Regions from separate parts of the Homo sapiens genome. Here region 1 is linked to region 2. Evidence: fine-mapped expression QTL. A gene starts in region 2. The other region holds a variant in brackets. All regions are shown on one strand. Distances are from middle to middle.

Region 1 (10,054 bases), 49 kb after region 2:
TAAAACTATACAAATACTTTAAAATTAAACAATTTACTCCTGAATAACTCCTGGGCAAACATCAAAATTAAGGCAAAAATAAAATATTATTTGAAATTTTTCACGCATGTCTGTGTGAAGAGACCACCAAACAGGCTTTGTGTGAGCAACATGGCTGTTTATTTCACCTGGGTGCAGGCAGGCTGAGTCCGAAAAGAGAGTCAGCGAAGGGAGATAAGGTTGGGGCCGTTTTATAGGATTTGGGTAGGTAAAGAAAATTACAGTCAAAGGGGGTTTGTTCTCTGGCGGGCAGGAGTGGGGGTCACAAGGTGCTCAGTGGGGGTGGTTTTTGAGCCAGGATGAGCCAGGAAAAGGACTTTCACAAGGTAATGTCATCACTTAAGGCAAGGACCGGCCATTTTCACTTCTTTTGTGGTGGAATGTCATCAGTTAAGGTGGGGCAGGGCATATTCACTTCTTTCGTGATTCTTCAGTTACTTCAGGCCATCTGGGCGTATATGTGCAAGTCACAGGGGATGGGATGGCTTGGCTTGGGCTCAGAGGCCTGACATTCCTGCCTTCTTATATTAATAAGAAAAATAAAACAAAATGGTGTTGAAGTGTTGGGGTGGCTAAAATTTTTGGGGGGTGATATGGACAGAGAATGGGCGATGTTTCTCAGGGCTGCTTCAAGCAGGATTAGGGGCAGCGTGGGAACCTAGAGTGGGAGAGACTAAGCTGAAGGGAGGTCTTGTGGTAAGGGGTGATATTGTGGGGATGTTAGAAGAAACGTTTGTCGTATAGAATGATTGGTGATGGCCTGAATACGGTTTTGGATGAATTGAGAAACTAAATGGAATAACAGAAGGAGAAAAACAGGTATAAAAGGTCTAAGAATTGGGACAACTCAGGATATCCGATTAGAGAGTGCCTAAGGAGATTCAGCATAGTCCTGCCAGCAAAGATTATTTATTTACTTCAAGAGTTAAGAGTGGCAGTTTGGGGATAGCACCAGGAGATATCAGCTGTGATGGCTTGGAAAAACAGTGTAAACCGGCAGTGTAAACAAGAGCAGGGCATGTATGAGTAGTTGAGAACAGTGAATAGGAGTATGACTAGACAGAAGATAGTAGGGATGACAAGTTTTTTTGGGGGCACAGTCTAAGTTGGTCTGGTGTCTGGAATGAGACTGGGGCCTAATAAAAAGGAGCGTCTATACAGGAGCTTAAATGGGCTGTACCCTGTAGCATTCCGAGGACAGGCCAGAATTCTGAGAAGGGAAAGTGGTAAAAGTATTGTCCAGTCCTTTTTGGTGGCTGAGCTTGGTGAGGTGTGTTTTTAAAAGACCTTTAGTCCATTCTACTTTTCTTGAAGACGGAGGACCGTAAGAGATATAAAGGTTTCACTGAATACTAAGAGCCTGAAAAACTGCTTGGCTGATTTGACTAATAAAGGCTCATCTGTTATCACACTGTATTGAGGTGGGAAGGCTTAACCGAGGAATTATGTCTGACAGAACGGAAGAAATGACTGCGGTGGCCTTCTCAGACCCTGTAGGAAAGGACTTTACCTATCCAGTGAAAGTATCTACCTAGACTAAGAGGTATTTTAGTTATCTGACTCAGGGCATGTTGAGTAAAGCTAATTTGCCAGTCCTGGGTGGGGCAAATCCTCGAGCTTGATGTGTAGGGAAGGGAGGGGGCCTGAATAATCCCTAAGGAGTAGTAGAATAGCAGATGGAACACTGAGAAGTTATTTCCTTGAGGATAGATTTCCACGATGGAAAGGAAATGAGAGGTTCTAAGAGGCAGGCTAGTGGCTTGTACTATAGCATAGCCTGCCTTTGCTGGTGTGTGGCGATTAGGCCTGGTGGAACCGCCATCAATAAATCAAGCGTGATCAGGGTGAGGAACAGGAAAGAAGGAAATTTGGGGAAATGGGGTGAATGTCAGGTGGATCAGAGAGATACTGTCATGGGGGTCAGGTGTGGTATCAGGAATAATGTGGGAGGCCGGACTGAAGTCTGGGCCAGGAACAACGGTAATTGTGGGAGACTCAACAAAGAGTGAGTACAGCTGAAGGAGCCGGGAAGCAGAAAGTATATGCGTCAGGTATGAGGAAGAAAATAGATTTTGGAAGTTATGAGAACTGTAGAGAGTGAGTTGAGCATAGTTTGTGATTTTGAGGGCCTCTAAAAGTATTAAAGCAGCGGCAGCCGCTGCATGAAGATATGAGGGCTAGGCTAAAACAGTAAGGTCAAGTTGTTTGGACAGAAAGGCTATACGGTGTGGTCCTGGTTGTTGTGTAAGAATTCTGACCACGTTAACCATGCCTAGGAAGGAAAGGAGTTGTTGTTTTGTAGAAGGTGCTTGGGTTTGAGAGATCAGTCGGACACGATTGGCAGGGAGAGCACATGTGTTTTTATGAGAATTATGCCGAGATAGGTAACAGATGAGGATAAAATTTGGGCTTGACTGAAGTAATGGGGGCTGTCTGTGAAGTCTTGCAGCAGTACAGCCTAGGTAATTTGCTGAGCCTAATGGGTCTCAGGGTCAGTCTAAGTGAAAGCAAAGAGAGGCTGGGACGAGGGGTGCAGGGGAATAGTGAAAAAAGCATCTTTAAGATCAAGCACGGAATAGTGAGTTGTGGAGGAAGGTATTGAGGACAAAAGAGGGTACGGGTTGGGCACCACAGGGGGGATAGGCAAAACAATTTGGTTGATAAGGCGCAGATCCTGAACTAACTTGTAAGGCTTGTCTGGTTTTAGGACAGGTAAAATGGGGGAATTGTAAGGAGAGTTTATAGGTTTTAAAAGGCCATGCTGTAGCAGGTGAGTGATAACAGGCTTTAATCTTTTTAAAGCGTGCTGCGGGATGGGATATTGGCGTTGAGTGGGGTAAGGGTGATTAGGTTTTAATGAGATGGTAAGGGGTCACCAAGGAGGGAGTAGAGGTATCTTATACTTGTGGGTTAGGGTCGGGGGATACAAGAGGAGGACGCAAGGAGGCTTTGGATTGGGAAGAAGGGCGGCAATGAGATATAGCTGTAGTCCAGGAATAGTCAGGGAAGCAGATAATTTAGTTAAAGTGTCTCAGCCTAATAAGGGAACTGGGCAGGTGGGGATAACTAAAAAGGAGTGCTTAAAAGAGTATTGTCTAAGTTGGCACCAGAGTTGGGGAGTTTTAAGAGGTTTAGAAGCCTGGCCGTCAATACCCACAACAGTTATGGAGGCAAGGGAAACAGGCCCTTGAAAAGAAGGTAATGTGGAGTGGGTAGCCTCCATATTGATTAAGAAGGGGACGGGCTTACCTTCCACTGTGAGAGTAACCCAAAGCTTGGCGTCCGTGATGGTCTAGGGGGCTTCCGAGGCAATCAGGCAGTGTCAGTCTTCAGCTGCTAAGCCGAGAAGATCTGGGAAGGAGTCAGTCAGAGAGCCTTGGACCAGCGTTCTAGGGGCTCTGGGAGTGGCTGCCAGGTGAGTTGAACAGTCCAATTTTCAGTGGGGTCCCACACAGATGGGACACGGCTTAGGAGGAATCCCAGGCTGCGGGCATTCCTTGGCCCAGTGGCCAGATTTCCGGCACATGTAGCAAGCTCCTGGGGGAGGAGGTTCTGGAGGAACGCCTGGCCGCTGCGGTTCAGGCGTTTGGAAGTTCTTGTGTGCTGCAGATGTGGCTGGGGTTTGTCTCACAGTGGAGGCAAGTAATTGCAACTTTTTTCTATTATTGTACACCTTGAAGGCGAGGTTAATTAAATCCTGTCATGGGGTTTGAGGGCCGGAATTTAATTTTTGGAGTTTTATTTAATGTCGGGAGCAGAATGGGTAATAAAGTGCATTTTGAGA[A/G]TAAGACGGCCTTTTGACCTTTTAGGGTCTAGGGCTGTAAAGTATCTCAGTATTGCTGCTAAACAAGTCATGAACTGGGCTGGATTTTTATATTTGATGAAAAAGAGCCTAAACGCTATCTGATTTGGGATAAAGAAAAAGGAGCATTAACCTTGACTATGCCTTTAGCTCCAGCCACCTTTCTAAGAGTAAATTGCTGGGCAGGTGAGGGAGGGCTAGTCACGGAAAGAAACTGTAAGCCGGACCAGGTGTGAGGAGCGGAGGCGATAAAAAGATTATAGGGTGGAGGAGCGGAGGCTGAGGAAGAATTGGGACCTAGCTCGGCCTGGCGAGGAGGTGAGAGGTCAGATGGGTCTGTAGAAAAGGAAGATTAGAAAGACTCAGCGATGCTTGGGGTTGGGACTGAGGGGACAGGCGGGAGGGAAAGAAGGAAGATTTGGGACGAGTTGTACTGGGCACAGAGACTAGGAAGGGACTGATGTGTAAAAGAATGCCTGGACGTCAGGCGCCTCGGACTGTTTGCCTATTTTACAACAAGAATTATTTAGATCTTGCAGGATGGAAAAATTCAAAGTGCCATTTTCTGGCTATTTGGAACTACTGTCGAGTTTGTATTGGGGTCAAGTGGCATTGCAGAAGAAAATAAGGCATTTAGGTTTTAGGTCAGGTGTGAGTTGAAGAGGTTTTAAGTTTTTGAGAACACAGGCCAAGGGAGTAGAAGGAGGAATGGAGGGTGGAAGGTTGCCTATACTGAAGGAAGCAAGCCTAGAGAAAAGAGAGAGTAGAGAAATGGAGGGAAGGGGTTCGGGGGTTCTTACCTTCCAGAAAAGGGGTGGGGTGCAGAGATAAGAGGTTGGGGTGTGGAAATAAGGGATTGGGGCACAGAGATATAAGAGGTTGGGGCACGGAAATAAGGGATTGGGGTGCAGAGATACGAGGTTGGGGCATGGAAATAAGGGATTGGGACACAGAGATAAGAGGTCGGGGTGCGGAAATAAGCAACTGGGGGGTTCTTGCCCCCCAGGAAAGCAGGACTTGCCGCTAAGGGTGAAGGAGAAGGGGTTGAGGGGTACTTGCCCCTGCCCCAGAAAAGCAGAGAAGGGGTTGGGGTACTTGCCCCTTCCCCAGAAAAGCGGGACTTGCCGCTAAGGGTGAAGGACCAAGGCAGGCGTCCCTGCGTGTGGTCTGACACCCTTGAAACGTGAGTGTATAATCAGAGAGGCGTCCCTGCAAGGATTAAACACCAAGGGAAGGCTGCCTTCCCAGTCCGTGACCGGAGCCGGAGTTTTGGGTCCACGGATAAAACGTGTCTCCTTTGTCGCTACCAGAAAATGAAAGGAATTGAAATTAAGGGAGACATTGAAGTGTGGCACCAAGATTGAAAGGAGAAAGAGGTTGAGGGATAGTGAGGGAGGTTGGAGAAGAGAGTAAAAAGAGGCTGCTTACCGGATTTGAAATTGGTGAGATGTTTCTTGGGCTGGTTGGTCTGAGGACCTGAGGTCGTAGGTGGATGTTTCTCATGGAGCAAAGAACAGGAGGACAGGGGATTGATCTCCCAAAGGAGGTCCCCCGAGCCGAGCCACAGCACCAAATTTCATGCGCGTCCGTGTGAAGAGACCACCAAACAGGCTTTGTGTGAGCAACATGGCTGTTTATTTCACCTGGGTGCAGGCGGGCTGAGTCCAAAAAGAGAGTCAGCGAAGGGAGATAAGGGTGGGGCCGTTTTATAGGATTTGGGTAGGTAAAGGAAAATTACAGTCAAAGGGGGTTTGTTCTCTGGCGGGCAGGAGTGGGGGTCGCAAGGTGCTCAGTGGGGGTGCTTTTTGAGCCAGGATGAGCCAGGAAAAGGATTTTCACAAGGTAATGTCACCACTTAAGGCAAGGACTGGCCATTTTCACTTCTTTTGTGGTGGAATGTCATCAGTTAAGGTGGGGCAGGGCATATTCACTTCTTTTGTGATTCTTCAGTTACTTCAGGCCATCTGGGTATTCAAGTCACAGGGGATGGGATGGCTTGGCTTGGGCTCAGAGGCCTGACAAAATTAATGAAAATACACAACTTACCAAACTCTCTGTGATGCAGCCAAAGCCTTTTACATATTAATTCATTTATTTCTCCTGATAGTCTCTGAGTTGGTACTAGTATTATTATTTCTTATTTTATAGATGATAACACTAAGGTACAGAGCAGTTAAGTAACTTCCCTTAGATCACACAGTTAGTAGCTGAAAGCTTTGGGATATGACTCTAGGCAGTCAGGCTATAGAACCTGTGCCCTTCATCTCCTGCTCTGATAAATGGCTACTACTACAGCTAATACACATATTATGGTATTTGAATTTCATATCTCTAGAGAGTAGTTACTATAAGCCCTGCTTTCAATAATGGAGACACTGAAACTCGGAGAGGCTAAGTTACTAGGTCTACGACTCATGGTAAATAGCAAGATCAATGAGTTTTCCACTGTCTCTCAATTTCATGGACAACCCTATCAAATGAGGCAGGGTATGTTAAATGTCCGAAGTTTTTATTTTATAGAATTAAGCTAAATATGAACCCTAGGACCAGGAACAAGAAAATGTAATACTTATCACCTCATGGTGCTTTGTATGAAGGCAGGGACCTGGAATATTCATAGTTACCTGATGCAAAAATCTAGACCTCTGGGGCCCATGCCATACCCAGAGAATCAGAACCTCTGAGGTGAGGCTTAGAAATCTGTGGCTGACAAGATTCTCACGTGTTTTTTGATGTGTAGCCAATTTGAAAACCACAGCAACAGCAGAGCTGAATGCAGATTGCTGAGTGGCATTTCTCCACGAAGTGCCCCAGAATGCGGTTGTGGGAGAAGCTTGGACAAGAGCCCCCAACTCTGATCTCAATTACTGACTCTGTCCCTCAGGACTTGTTGACAATAAGCAACCCACTCAACTTCACTCAGCTACATTTTCTTCATCTGCCATCACAAGGAACATAAGTGTTAACACATGTAAAAGCCTAAGTACAAAAGCTGATGCACAAAATGCAAGTTTTCTTTCCCTACGAAATTGTTCTGAAAGGACTTTTTCAATTATAGAGGACTATGCAGAAAGAATAGAATGATTTACTCTGAACAGTTCTACACACTCAACACCTGCCTTTTGTGCTGAAACATTTAATTTCTTGTGGGCATGCCTGAAATCATCATGGTTTCTAAATGCTCAAGTTTCTTGTTGATGCTAATCCGAAGATATTTCTAGTAGTCGCTGAAGCTAGTTGTCTGAAACTTAATTATCTATAGATAAAGTTTGTTTGTAGAACACCCAGGCCCTCAATTTCTCCTTCTTAAGTCTGAAATCAACATGGTGGTGGGTTGCCTCCCAAAATATGCCAAAAAGAAAAGGGAAGCATAAATTAGTTCCTTTGGGCTATGTCTAGTGAAGCAAAAACCCCATGTCTGTGTGTTCATCATTTACTGGGCATCTTTTGCAGCCTAAAGAGGCTAATCTGGTAAGCTCTAGTGGGTGGTGTTACGTTTCCAGCAAAGGAGAGATTTGGATGCCTTGAAATACATGGACAATGTCATAAGGTTACCCAGGTTGGAGAAATAACCCCATTAGTTATAGATAGCAATTTATGCTACCATGAGTCCTCTAACAGACTACCTCATAAGGAGCTCAATTATTTTCTGATTCCTGCCAATGTAGCTTCTCATAGAGAGAAAATAAAAATAAAATGGTTTCCAATCATGATTTGGTTCCCCTGTGACTTGGCTTCAGGGAAGGAAACTCACCAACTCAGACCAACCTGAAACTTTTGTCTTCTTTCCCCCCATTGAAAATTAATAAACTGACACTCTGGTATATCTCCTAGCTGCACAGGCATGTTGGTTAGCCTGAGTCAGGCTGAATTCTGTGTGTTGAAAAGATGATTTTCTTTCCAAACATCCTCTCTTAAATGATGTCAAGGTCTTTGGCTCACAGTCTCTCACTCAAATGTTATCAGCCCCGAGCAGTTTGCATTGTGATGCCTGTTGGGGATACAAAAGCAGAACAAGGCACCCATCCCTGTCTTCAAGGGGTTTGCAGTATTGCTGGGAAACAAGCAATCAGATAAATTTCAGAATCATACAAGATGAGACATGATCAGAGGCTCAATGGAACACATTTAAATGGGGTTGGAGAGGTAAGTTGGAGCCTAGGAATGGGGTTCACGTAGAAGTGTGGTGGTCAGAGGGAGAAGTCGTTGTCTTCTGCAGTCTAGATGTTTCCTGTTGGATTGGCCCAAGTGGGATAGGTAGGCAGGGAGCAGAGAGGATAGCCTGCCATGCCAAGAAATGGCCTGGGCAGAGATTCTAGACCACTTTGGAATTTCTGTCATGGAGGTTCTGATCATTGAATCCATGGACTCACACAGAAGGTCATGTCCTCCCCACTCCCAGAGATAAGAGGGGAGGCAACATGCTTGCAAAATAAGTGGTCTCCAGGCCGGGTGCCGTGGCTCACGCCTGTAATCCCTGCACTTTGGAAGGCCAAGGCGGGTGGATCACCTGACGTCAGAAGTTCAAGACCAGGCTGGCCAACATGATGAAACCCCGTCTCTACTAAAAATACAAAAAATTAGCCGGACCTGTGGGTAGGCACCTGTATTCCCAGCTACATGGGAGGCTGAGGCAGGAAAATCACTTGAACCTGGGAGGCGGAGGTTGCAGTGAGCCGAGATTGTGCCACTGCACTCCAGCCTGAGTGGCAAGAGCAAAACTCCGTCTAAAAAAAAAAAAAGTCTCAAATCTGAATATGTCAGCAAATCTTTCCATATTGGCCAGATTCTCAAAAATGCTGCTCCTCTGCTCTAGCCCAGTATCACCTTCCCTAAGGAGCCTGGGGAGCAGTTTTCCCAAATTATACACAGGGATATGCTCTGTACTTTTCCACTCATAATTAAATAAATATTTGAATAGTTACTTGTTTAATGACTGTCTCTCCTACCAGACAGTCAGCTTCATTAAATAAAAAGTACTTAGCATGGTGCTTGTCTCCTAGTAAGGACTCAATAAATGTTGTCTCTTTGTGCTACTTGTGTTTCATGAGAGCAAAGCCTGTTTCTGTCTAGTCATCAGTGTATTCCCAGTGCTAAGCAAGACGTCTGGCACAAGAGAGTCTCAGTAACATATTTATTCAATGAATGAACTCTTGGTTCCACTGCCCCATTCCCATCTCACCACCACAAAACTACTTTTCTTATAGCTTTCCCCAATTCAGTAAATGATAATTCTAATCTAGGAATTTTTCAGGTCAAAAACCTTACTGTCAGCCTTGACTCCTTTCTTTCACATCCAAGCCTATTCCAACAGCAATGGCAACCAACTCTGGCCTCAAAATTTACCCTTAAACAATGTCTTATCATCAATTCTCTTATGGCCACTCTAGACCAAGCAACCATGGCTTCGCAGCTGATCTGTCACTAGAGACTCCTGATGCATCCCTTGCTTCTGCACTTGGCCTTCTAGTCTCTTCTCCATAGAGCAGCCAGAGTGATTCCTTTCTAACACAATTCAGAGCATGACACTCCTCTGTCCACACATCTCCAATGACTTCCCTTCTTCCTGAGAGGAAAACTAAAAATTCCTTAATCTGGTCCACAAAGTCCCAGGTGAGTGACCTCAGCTGATCCTCTGGCCTTCTCTCACTGTCCTTCTCTAGCATCTCGGCCTCCTCACTGTCCACAGCAGGCCAGGGAGCTTCCTCCCTTCAGCCTTTGACCTTGCTATTCTCCACCTGGAAGCCTCCTTCCCAGATATCCACAGAGCTGGCTGCATCTACAGTTGGCATGGCATGGGTGTGAAGGAAGGAGTCAAGGCTGACAGTGAGGTTTTTGAGCTGGAAAACTCCTAGAGTGGAATTATCATTTACTGAGCTTGGGAAGGCTATAGGAGAAATAGTTTGGTGGCAGTGTGTGGAGAGGAACGAAAACATGTGGTTTCTCCCTCCTTTCTTTCAGGTCTCCCTTCCATGCCACCCTCTCAGAGCCTTGCCCCGATGACCTTATTTAAATGGATGCCTTGGCCTCTCCAGCCTTCCTCATCTCTTTACTATGTTTTGTTGTCCTTCATAGCTCTTATTGACACTTGTCACAATACACATCTATTTATTTATTGTCCGTCTTCCACTCTAAAACATAGATGGGACTTTGACAATTTTATTTATTATTTACATATCCGACACCTAGATTAAGACCAGGCAGTTAGTAGGC
Region 2 (10,054 bases):
TGTAACTATAAAGGAGTAGTATAATAATCTTTGTGGGAGGTAATACTTCTGTATCTTGCAGAAGCACTTACAGAAATCTACACAAGTGATAAAATGACATAGAACTACACACGCACACCCATGCAAATTTGTGCATGCCCATGCCTGTCCCCCCACCCCCACACACTGTACCTCTGTCAATTCCTGATTTTGATATCGTATGATAGTTGTATAAGGTGGAACCATAGAAGGAACCTTGGTGAAGGGTATACAAGACCTCTCAGTACTATCTTTCAAATCTATAATTTAGATAACTAATAATTATGCACTGACAATCAATAATTATATCAAAATAAAATGAATCGTTAATAGATAAACAAATTTTGTTGCATCCATACAGTAGAATATTACCCAATAACAACATGGATAAATCTCATATGCATCATGCTAGGTGAAAAAAGGCATACACAAAAGTTTGTGTACTGTATGATTTCATTTATATAGTGACCTAGAAAATGCAAAACCATAGGGAAATAACTATACCAGCGGATTCCCTGGGGCAGGAAGTGAGTATTGACTATTTGAAGGAAATTTCGAGATGATGCAAGTTTTATATATCTTTTCTTAAATTAAAAAATAATTTAGAAATAAAGTCTCATTATGTTGTCCAGGCTGGAGTGCAGTGGCTATTCACAGGCATGATTACAGTGCACTGCAGCCTGGAACTCCCGGGCTCACGTGCTCCTCCTGCCTCACTCTTCCCAGTAGCTGGGACTCCAGGCAAGTGTTACATACCTTGATGACAATGGTTACATGACTGTATACATTTCTAAAAATTTACGTTTTTAAAATGTATAAAACTCTGTGTAAATTATATGTCTACACACCAAGTTTAATAAAAATGAAAAAAAGCATCTTGAAATCCTAAACTATACCCACAATAATTATGTATGTTGTTTTTTATTTTTTACCATAAAACATTATGTGGTCATAAACACCTATGAGCAAAATAACATTGTTTTCCCAGGATCTTTGTATTACTTCTGTAGACTGCACTCCCAGAAGTTGTATTACAGAGGTGGATGGAGAAGAGTAGAGGAATAAATTTTAGGCACATTTTTACAGGAATATTTGCATATGCAAGTATGCAAAATTACCTCCCAGAAGTATATATATTTTTAGCCAGTTTATAATGCCACTAAAGTTTTGAAAGTACTTCTTTCCCCCACACCCTTGTGGGCGATAGAATTTTGATTGCTACTGTCAGTTGGTTCCACTTGGCTCAGATATCTCTTCCTGATAATTGAAGGGTTTGCACTTATTTGAGACCTTGTAATTATGGCATATAGGATTAGCAGAGCAGAACTGAACCCACACTATTTACCGTTTACTAAACATCCCCTTGAACATTCACACACACGTATGACAAGCTACAAACACTCTTCATTGATAACTATAGTGTCATTCTGGTAATTATCATTAATTTTATTTACCAGAATATTGGTGATGTCTGCAGACAGGAGAATTAGTGGGGTATCTTGTTTCGGTTCTGGAGTGAGTCCCCTTCTTTTAATTTTTATTCTTTGTCCTTTGCCTCTCTGTTATTTTCACATTATCTCCTTGTCCTATTCAATTGTGTCTATCATTCCATTTTACATTTAAATGATATCTTGATTTTGCTTTGGGTTAATTCTCACTCTGTCAGAAATGTGACTTGATCTGTCACAAACTGCCCAAAATACACATTTTAGGATCTTGCATCTTCATCTACTATTTTCCTATGTTTGCAATGATGTCTTTTCCTATTTTCTGTTATTGGATACCTGTGGCACTTTACTCCAAGGAGATGTAGTTTTCTCTAATTTTTTTCTGCAAAATATGCCTACTGTAGTAGACATATTTTGAGGTGCTTTGTCTTTGGTCTGCAATGATGAGCTGTGTTTTATAGTCGCTCCTGGCTTTTCCTTGAATATTAATAATTCTGGGGTAAGCATCTCCCTAAAAGAATTATCCCCTACTCAGGAGAATCCTTCTACTTCCTTTTTGCTTCCTCCCTAGACCTAATACATGAGCATGTTTTCACTTGCTTTACCTCATTTAACTTTCAGATTACTCTCAGAAGGAGATTCAAATACTCCCATTTTGCATGTGAGACAGCCAGATGGGAAAGGGTCCACAGAGAAACTCCAACCAGCCTGCATACTGGGAGGAGTGCACACTGGGGTGGAGCCACAGAAGTTCTCACCATTTGCAGTGGGGAAGAGCCTGGCCCTTCCTATTCCTGGGTGGTAGCTGGGATTCAATTGTGAAGCAGGAAGCACATACTAGGAAGACTCTGGCTCTGCTGCGTCCCTGTTCTGCCCCCATTTTTCCTTTTGCTCAATAAATCCCATTATTCTCACCCTTCAAATTGTCTGCGAGCCTAATCTTTCATGGCCTTGTGACAGGGAGCTTGTCTTTAGCTGAACTAAGGAAGAGTCCCACACCACACGCACACAATATAATGACAAAGCCCTCCCCACCAGCACTACTACTACTGCCAAGAACTGTCCTCTAAACAGTGTGACCCAGCTTTGTGGAGAGTTGGCCAGATGGGCGTCACCTGAGCTCAAGGACAATCTCCTCTGCTCTGGTCTTGCCTCATGCCCAAGCTGGATTTGATCCCAGGTCTCTTGACTTCCCTTCTTTCCTCCCTACTTATTCCCATGCTGGATTTGAGCCCAGGTCTCTTGACTTTCTTTCTTTCCTTCCTTTCTTCCTTCCTTCCTTCCTTCATTCCTTCCTTCCTTCCTCCCTCCCTCCCTCCCTCCCTCCCTTCTTTCCTTCCTTCCTTCTTTTCTTCCTCTAATGTCTATTGAGCACATATTAAATGCCAGCTTCCTTCTAGGATTTGGAGTTTTTCAATGAAAAAAAAAGTGGACTCCTGCTTTTGTGATATTTGAATTCTAGTGAGTGGACACAGACAGACTACAAAGCATAAATGTTATAAAGTGGTGAGGGGTGGTTGCTATAGACAAAAAAGTATAAGGGAGTGTAGGGGATATCAGGAGTTCTGGGGGATGATGGGATTGCAATTTCAAATGCAGAGGTTAAGATAGACCTCATTGAAAAGGTGACATTAGAGCAAAGGCTTGATGTCTATGTGAAGAGCATTCTGGACACATGGAGCAGCTGGTGCAGAGGACTGAAAGTGGAACATGGGTTGATTGTGGCTTAGCAATGAGGGGCAGTGCAGACAGAGGTGCAAAGAGGCATCAGGGGGGCCTAGTCATGAGAGGCTCTGCAGGTCATGGTTGGAATTAGATCTGGTGCTGTCCCTCTATGTTGTGGTCAGCAAGATGATTTCACCAGCAGCTTATTCAATATGCTTTCTAAGAAAATCATCATTTAACCAGTTAGTGTGGATTCTCCTGGCCAAATCCTAGTGTGCAAATATGCTGGAAACATTCAATCTTGTTTCCAGCAAGGCTTGGGATAATTTAGAAACTGTTCAATCAACTCAGTAAATATGAATTAAACATTTACAGTTGTATTAAATATTCGAAAGATAGGAACCAAAACAGTCTATCAAGTAATTGTACATATTTGTGCATTTACAAAATGCATATTCATGAGAGCTATGTAAATATATATTTAGTCATTTCCTCTTTCATGTGAAGTGCTATGGCTGAACTACAGATGGTAACTTTCTTGTGTCTGATTATGAAAATGGCACAGTAAAGCATTCTGACATTGTCCTTAGAAAAAGATCATTGTTTGGCCATTACCATGAGTTCAGTGTTCTTGGAACTAGGGAGAAGAAAGTTCTAGAACATGTCTGTTTTTGTGGCAGGCATCTAGGGAGGAAAGGCAGTTATTTCTAAGATACGTGGCTCTCATACTTTTTCCACCAAGGGTCACAAAAAGGAGGAGGTTTATGTGTAGGACATGCTGAAGTCCTGTGGGCTCTGTATTCCAGCCACAGTGCCACCCTTTCTTTCTCTGTCAGGAAAGCATAGTGGGAGGGTAGGGAGTGAGCATAATGACATTTTGGGTTAATATTTAATTCATTCTAATTTATTCAAAAACGTGTCTAACTTCTCATGATATCTATTAATACTAACATGACTGGCAACCCCTCACAACTGCCTCTGACAACTCTTGTGGGTCCTTCTGCCACATCTAAGGACTCTCTGGATAAGGAGATGGTGAGAGAACACACATTCTAATTTTGTCTTTGTGTGAAGGTCTTATGTGAAAATCTTTCTGGGAATTAGAGTTTTCTAAAGGAATCTCTATTTCCTAAGGTCCTGATACTCTTACTAGCATTTGCCAGTTAATTCTGTGAGACCCAAATGTGTGCAGGGCCTGGACACTTTATCTCATACTAGGTCTCTTCCTTAACCATCCACTATTCCCCAAATATTTACACAGGTGGACTGCGTAGTTAGACTGATATTTGTGTCAGCCTTGAAAACTCAGGATGACTCTCGAAGCCGACTGCTCATGAAGTATCGTTGCTTGGATCTCCTCTTTTGGAGACTAAGGGAGCTTGACTGTGTGCAAGTTAGCAATAAGGACTGACTACTGGATTAGGTGGACCACGTGAATATCATCTTGTGGTGGCCTTTTGGGATCTTCTGATCTCACTCAGAGTAAAAGCCAAAGTCCTCACTATGACCTAGAAAACGCTTTGTGATCTGTGCCCCCAGGTCTATGACTTCACCTCTAACTAATCCCCCTCACTTGCTTAACCTCCTTCCTCAATGGCCTCTCTGCTAGCTCCTTGAACCACCCCAGGCCCTTTGCACCTGCTATTCCCTCTCCTCAGCATGCTCTGCCCCAGACAATTGCAATGCTAACTTCTTACTTCCTTCAGGTTTCACTCAGAAATGACTTTCTCAGTGGGGTCTCCCATGACCATTTTATTTAAGATTTCAACTACTTTGCCAGTATTTCACTTCTCCTCCCTTGATCTTTTCTTCCAAGCACTCACTGCCCTCTTGCACACTGTATCTTTTACTTATTTATCTTGTTCAGTTTCTGCCTGCCTCACCTGCCTCACCACAGTGTACATTTCACGAGGGCAGGGATTTTGTCTGTTTTGTTGATTGCTGTAGCCCTGGCATCTTGGGCAGTGCCAGCACCTGTTAGCATTAAATACATATTTACTGAATGAATGAGTGGCTTCATGCTTAAAAGCAAGAAGAGAGACCTTCATAGAGAAGTAGGAAAATGAATTGTTGCACAAATAAAGGGCCATGTAATGAGAGAGAGAGAGCAAGAGAAAGAGGTGAGATGCTGATAGATTTTCCAAAAACATTCCAGTTCCTACTTCCCATCTTTCATGAACCAAGATTTTTACTTCCTATCCATGGGCTATCCCTAAAAATTCCATTTTCTTAGGCTACTGTAATAGGGCTTGTCTTTATTGCTACCAAAAATCTCTAAGCAAAAAAAAAAAAAAATAGAGTCAAACTAGAAGATGCTAATTGTTTTCTCAACATCCAGCATGTCTTTGGAGAATGGGGTTCTCATGTAGCAAACAGTTTTGTGGGTTCTCTTCCGTGTTTCCTTTCTTGGATAACTAGGTCACAGACAGCTGGTGTTTCCCATGTGGCAAAGGGAGCATGCAGAGAAATCCCCGCCTCCTCTCTCTTTGCTTTTCAAGCCCTGCTGAATGCCTCCTAATGATTTCATCTGCTCGGAGGTCTGCTGGCTTTTCCACTCTCGTAGAAGCTGGTGGCGCCGGGGGCTGATGCATGCTCTGACTACTGACTTGAAACATGCTTTGATGAATTAGTGCAACTCGGCCAGCCATTTACTTTAAATTTTACCCTTGATTCTTCCTCTAGCAAACAATTAAGGAGCAGCAGTGGCTTCCTGCAGGGGAGACCAATGCCTTCTGTCCTCAGCGGAAACAGCTTGGCATTCTTCCAATTGATGAATGGCATGGACCAGGAGCACTAGTTATCTTCAGCTTCTGAGCATCCGAATAAATAAACATACAAATGCATAACATAAAATAAATTCAAATTACAAATGAGAAAACCAATCTAGGTTACCGGCAAGTCCTATGACTTGATGTGGAGGCCTGGAAGTGCATCCTTGAATCTTGCAATGCAGTGAGCCAAGGAGCAATGAGAGGCCACATGAATAACCGGGCCAGTGACAAGACACATGTCCTCCTCCTTGCTGGGTGAGTAGCCCAGTCCAACCCCAAAAGCTCCTGAGTAAGAGGAAAATGTCTCTTTAACAGTATTAAGGGATAATTTATTATGTGTATCCTTCCAGGGAAGCACAATGTCAGTAAAGGCCCATTGCATTTGCATTATTTCCAGACAACAGCAGCAGCAGAAAGGGACACTGATTTATTTCAGAGCAAGCACAGGTGAATGTAGTGTCTGTTGGGAATGAGCCAGGGAGCACTTAACCCGTTCTGAGTCTTTCTAATGCTTTAGGGGGAACCATAGGTTTTTGGAATAGTTCTATTGGCTTCTTTGGTCAAATTCAGTGTCCCTGAGCCTGTGCTTCTCAATCGCTTGGTAATAAAAGCTCTTACAGGGTGGAGGTCAGCGAAAAAAATATGTTTAAAAACAGAAAATCTGGTTTTATGCCGTGGCCACGTTAATTTCTTTCCGTGTGACCTGGGCAAATAATTTAATCCTTTTACGACTCAGTTATCTCTTTTGAAAAATGAGTGTAATAATGCTCCCTGCAGGATTTTAATGAAAATCAACTAAGCAAATGTATTAATGAGTGACATATAATGAATTGTATAAATGACATTGTTTTGGTGTGACATCAATTTGGGATTCCTGGGACACAAACAGAAGTTTAGGTATTATCTTCAGGTATGGTGTCTTGGCTAGCTTAGCTAGCAGAGAGCTTTTTTCTCAGAGGAATCATTCAGTGGGAGGTAAAACAGTCACTCTTTGAATTCTGGAATTAGAGAGTTATGAAATTCAAAAGGTCATGGTAGAAAGTGTCTTGGAGACATCTCTTCCGAGCTTCTGTTTTGGCAGAGGGAAAAACTGAAGCTTAGGGAAGCAAAGTAAACTGTAAACATCTCGGAGGGTGAGGTCAATCTTAATTATCTTTGGTTGTTGTTTCTTATCAGTATACACCAGAATGCCCCGCATGCAGCGAATGCTCAAAAAGTGTTGGTGGAAGTGACAGAATTCCATCACCATTAAACACAACCAGTGTTGCGGTTGACAATGGTAGGTTGGAGTATTTTCTCTTCTGATCCAGATTAGATCAGAATTTGATACTATTTTAATATTAAGCCTTGAAAAGAATGTGTTTACTGGTCAACTGAGGCATCTTGGAAAGGGACATGACCCCTATAGAGCCAGAAACATCCTGGTAAATCCTCTAGTTTCAACTTCTGACAGAAAGTCCTTGAAGTCTTAAAGAACAATTCCTTTTATTAAACCTTCATACAATTTTAACTTACACAGTAGCACACAATTACAAAATGTTACCCAATACATTACCTTATTTAATTCTCCTAATGATCTGGTGAAGTAGGCATTATTATTTCCATTTCTCAGAGTAAGAAATTGAGGCTCTGAGAGTCTGAGTGATGACCCAAGGATGTATAGGCACCGTCAGGACTGGAACTTGAACCCAGAACTCTTGATTTAAGTGTATTTCATTAACACTACCTTGTAAAGTACCAAGTAGATATCCCTTGCTCCTGTTTCTTCCTTCCTCCTTTTTCTCTCCCCTTCTCTCCCTTGTTCCTCTCTAGGCACTGAAGCAGGTGAAAAATCCGTACAGCAGCTTCTGTCTTTGAAGAGTTTGCAGCCTCTTGAAGAGGGTTTAGAGGTTAAAAAAAGGTAATTCTAAATGCAGAGGATCTTTATTACGCACTAACCCTGATTGAACACAGCCCAAAAGGGTTAACTGACCTGCCTGGGAGATGGGAAAGAGAGATACACCACAGTCCAAGATACAGTTGCTGCTGGAAAAAGAAATCGCTGAAATCCCAAAACACCCCTTTCAAAATATCTAGGCTTTCAAAGCCGTGTCTTTCCTTCTCCCCTCTCTTAGACGTGAGGAATGAGAGATGTGTGTGTGTGACACATCCAACTGGAATCTGCAAATCACTGATCCTTTAAAACCTATTTTTGTAAATACCAATAAAACAAGTCTTGACGCTTGTTCCTGAGTTCAGGGAATTCATTCAACCTGGAGCCCTGGAGGAGGAAAGCTATTCCCTAGGAATTTTTCCCCTTTCAGGTATCTCACCTGAAACTGAAACTTGTCTCTCACTCTTCCATTTTTCTGCCTTTCTTTGATTCAGAGCCTGTAATCCCTTCTGGTTTTCCTCCTTTGTCTGCCTTCACTTTGTCTAAGCAACAGAATAGTTTAGTTTGCCAAGTGAATAATACCACAAAGTGTTGAAGTCTGGAAATAATGCCTCATGGGCACTCCATAACTATTTGTTTAATGATTAAATGAATCGGTGAATAAATGAATGAATAATGGCCAAGTTTAAATACTGGCTCTATCATTTACCAGTTGCCCAGCTTTAAGACAGATATTTAACCTGTTTGTGCCTCAATTTCTTATCCTTCCATATTATGTGTAGGAGATTATAAAAATGTATATACAAGCATAACTTGAGATATTGTGGGTTTGGTTACAGACCACTGCAATAAAGCAAATATTGCCATAAAGCAAGTCACGTGAAGTTTTTGATTTTCCAGTGCATATAAAAGTTATGTTTACACTGCTGTAGTCTACTGTGTGTGAAATAGCATTATGTCTAAAGCATGTACACATCTTATTTTACTTTTTTAATTTTTTTGAGACTGAGTCTCAGTCTGTCACGCAGGCTGGAGTGCAGTGATGCGATCTCGGCTCACTGCAACCTCCACCTTCCAAGTTCAAGTGATTCTCCTGCCTTGGCCTCCCAAGTAGCTGAGATTACAGAGGTGCATGCCACCACACTCAGCTAATTTTTAAAAACTTTTTTTTTTTTTTTTAGTAGAGGCAGGGTTTTACCATGTTGGTCAGGCTGATCTCAAACTCCTGACCTCAAGTGATCCTCCCGTCTCGGCCTCCCAAAGTGCCGGGATTACAGGTGTGAGCCACCATGCCCATTCTTAAATGTACACATCCTAATTAAAAAATATTTTATTGCTAGCTGGGCGTGGTGGCTCATCCCTGTAATCCCAGCATTTTGGAAGACTGAGGCAGGAGGATCACCAGAAGTCAGGAGTTCTAGCCTGGCCAATATGGTGAAACTTTGTCTCTACTAAAAATACAAAAATTAGCCAGGTGTGGTGGTGGGCGCCTGTAGTTCCAGCTACTAGGGAGGCTGAGACAGGAGAATCACTTGAACACAGGAAGCAGAGGTTACAGTGAGCCGAGATCATGCCACTGCATTCCAGCCTGGGCAACAGAGCGAGACTCCATCTCAAAAACAAACAAACAAACAAAAAAACTTTATTGCTAAATAATAAACCTGGGCCTTCAGCAAATCATAATCTGTTTTTGCTGGTGGAGGGTCTTGTCTCAATGTTGATGGCTGCTGACTGATCAGGGTGGTGGTTGCTGAAGGTTAGGTAGCTATGACAATTTCCTAAAATAAGACAAGAATGAAATTTAGTGCATTGATTGACTCTTCTTTTTATGAAAGATTTCTCTGTAGCTTGCAATGCTGTTTAACAGCACTTTACCCATAGTATTATAGATCTTTCATAATTGAAGTCAATCTTCTCAAGCCCTACTGCTGCTTTATCAACTAAGTTGATTGTAGTGAATCTTTTGTTGTCATTTCAACAATGCTCACAGCATCTTCACTGGGAGTGGATCCCATCTCAAGAAACTATTTTTTTGTTTTTTTTTTTTTTTTTTTTTTTGCTCATAAGAAGCAACTTCTCATCCACTGAAGTTTTATCACGAGATTGTAACAATTCTGTCACATCTTCAGGCTCCACTTCTAATTCTGGCTATCTTACTGTTTCTACCACATCCACAGTTCTTGCCTCCACTAAAGCTTTCAAAGTCATCCATGAGGGTTAGAATCCACTTCTTTTAAACTCCTATTAATGCTGATATTTTGACTTCTTCCCATGCATCA

The links.
Region 1: its variant is fine-mapped to the expression of CASC8 in whole blood (INTERVAL, PIP 0.99).

What each region holds. Positions count from the first base shown.
Region 1 is chr8:127,427,511-127,437,564 of GRCh38, reverse strand. The region is part of intron 4 of CASC8 (cancer susceptibility 8); the gene reads left to right. Among named protein-coding and RNA genes, the nearest start is that of POU5F1B, 17 kb to the right of the region's middle. RefSeq lists an enhancer at 4,435-5,349. The variant A/G (reference allele first, on the strand shown) is at 3,824.
Region 2 is chr8:127,476,831-127,486,884 of GRCh38, reverse strand. CASC8 (cancer susceptibility 8) reads left to right here and starts at 4,746. Exons shown (of 6, transcript NR_117100.1): 1 at 4,746-5,251; 2 at 5,814-6,157; 3 at 7,079-7,181; 4 at 7,715-7,802.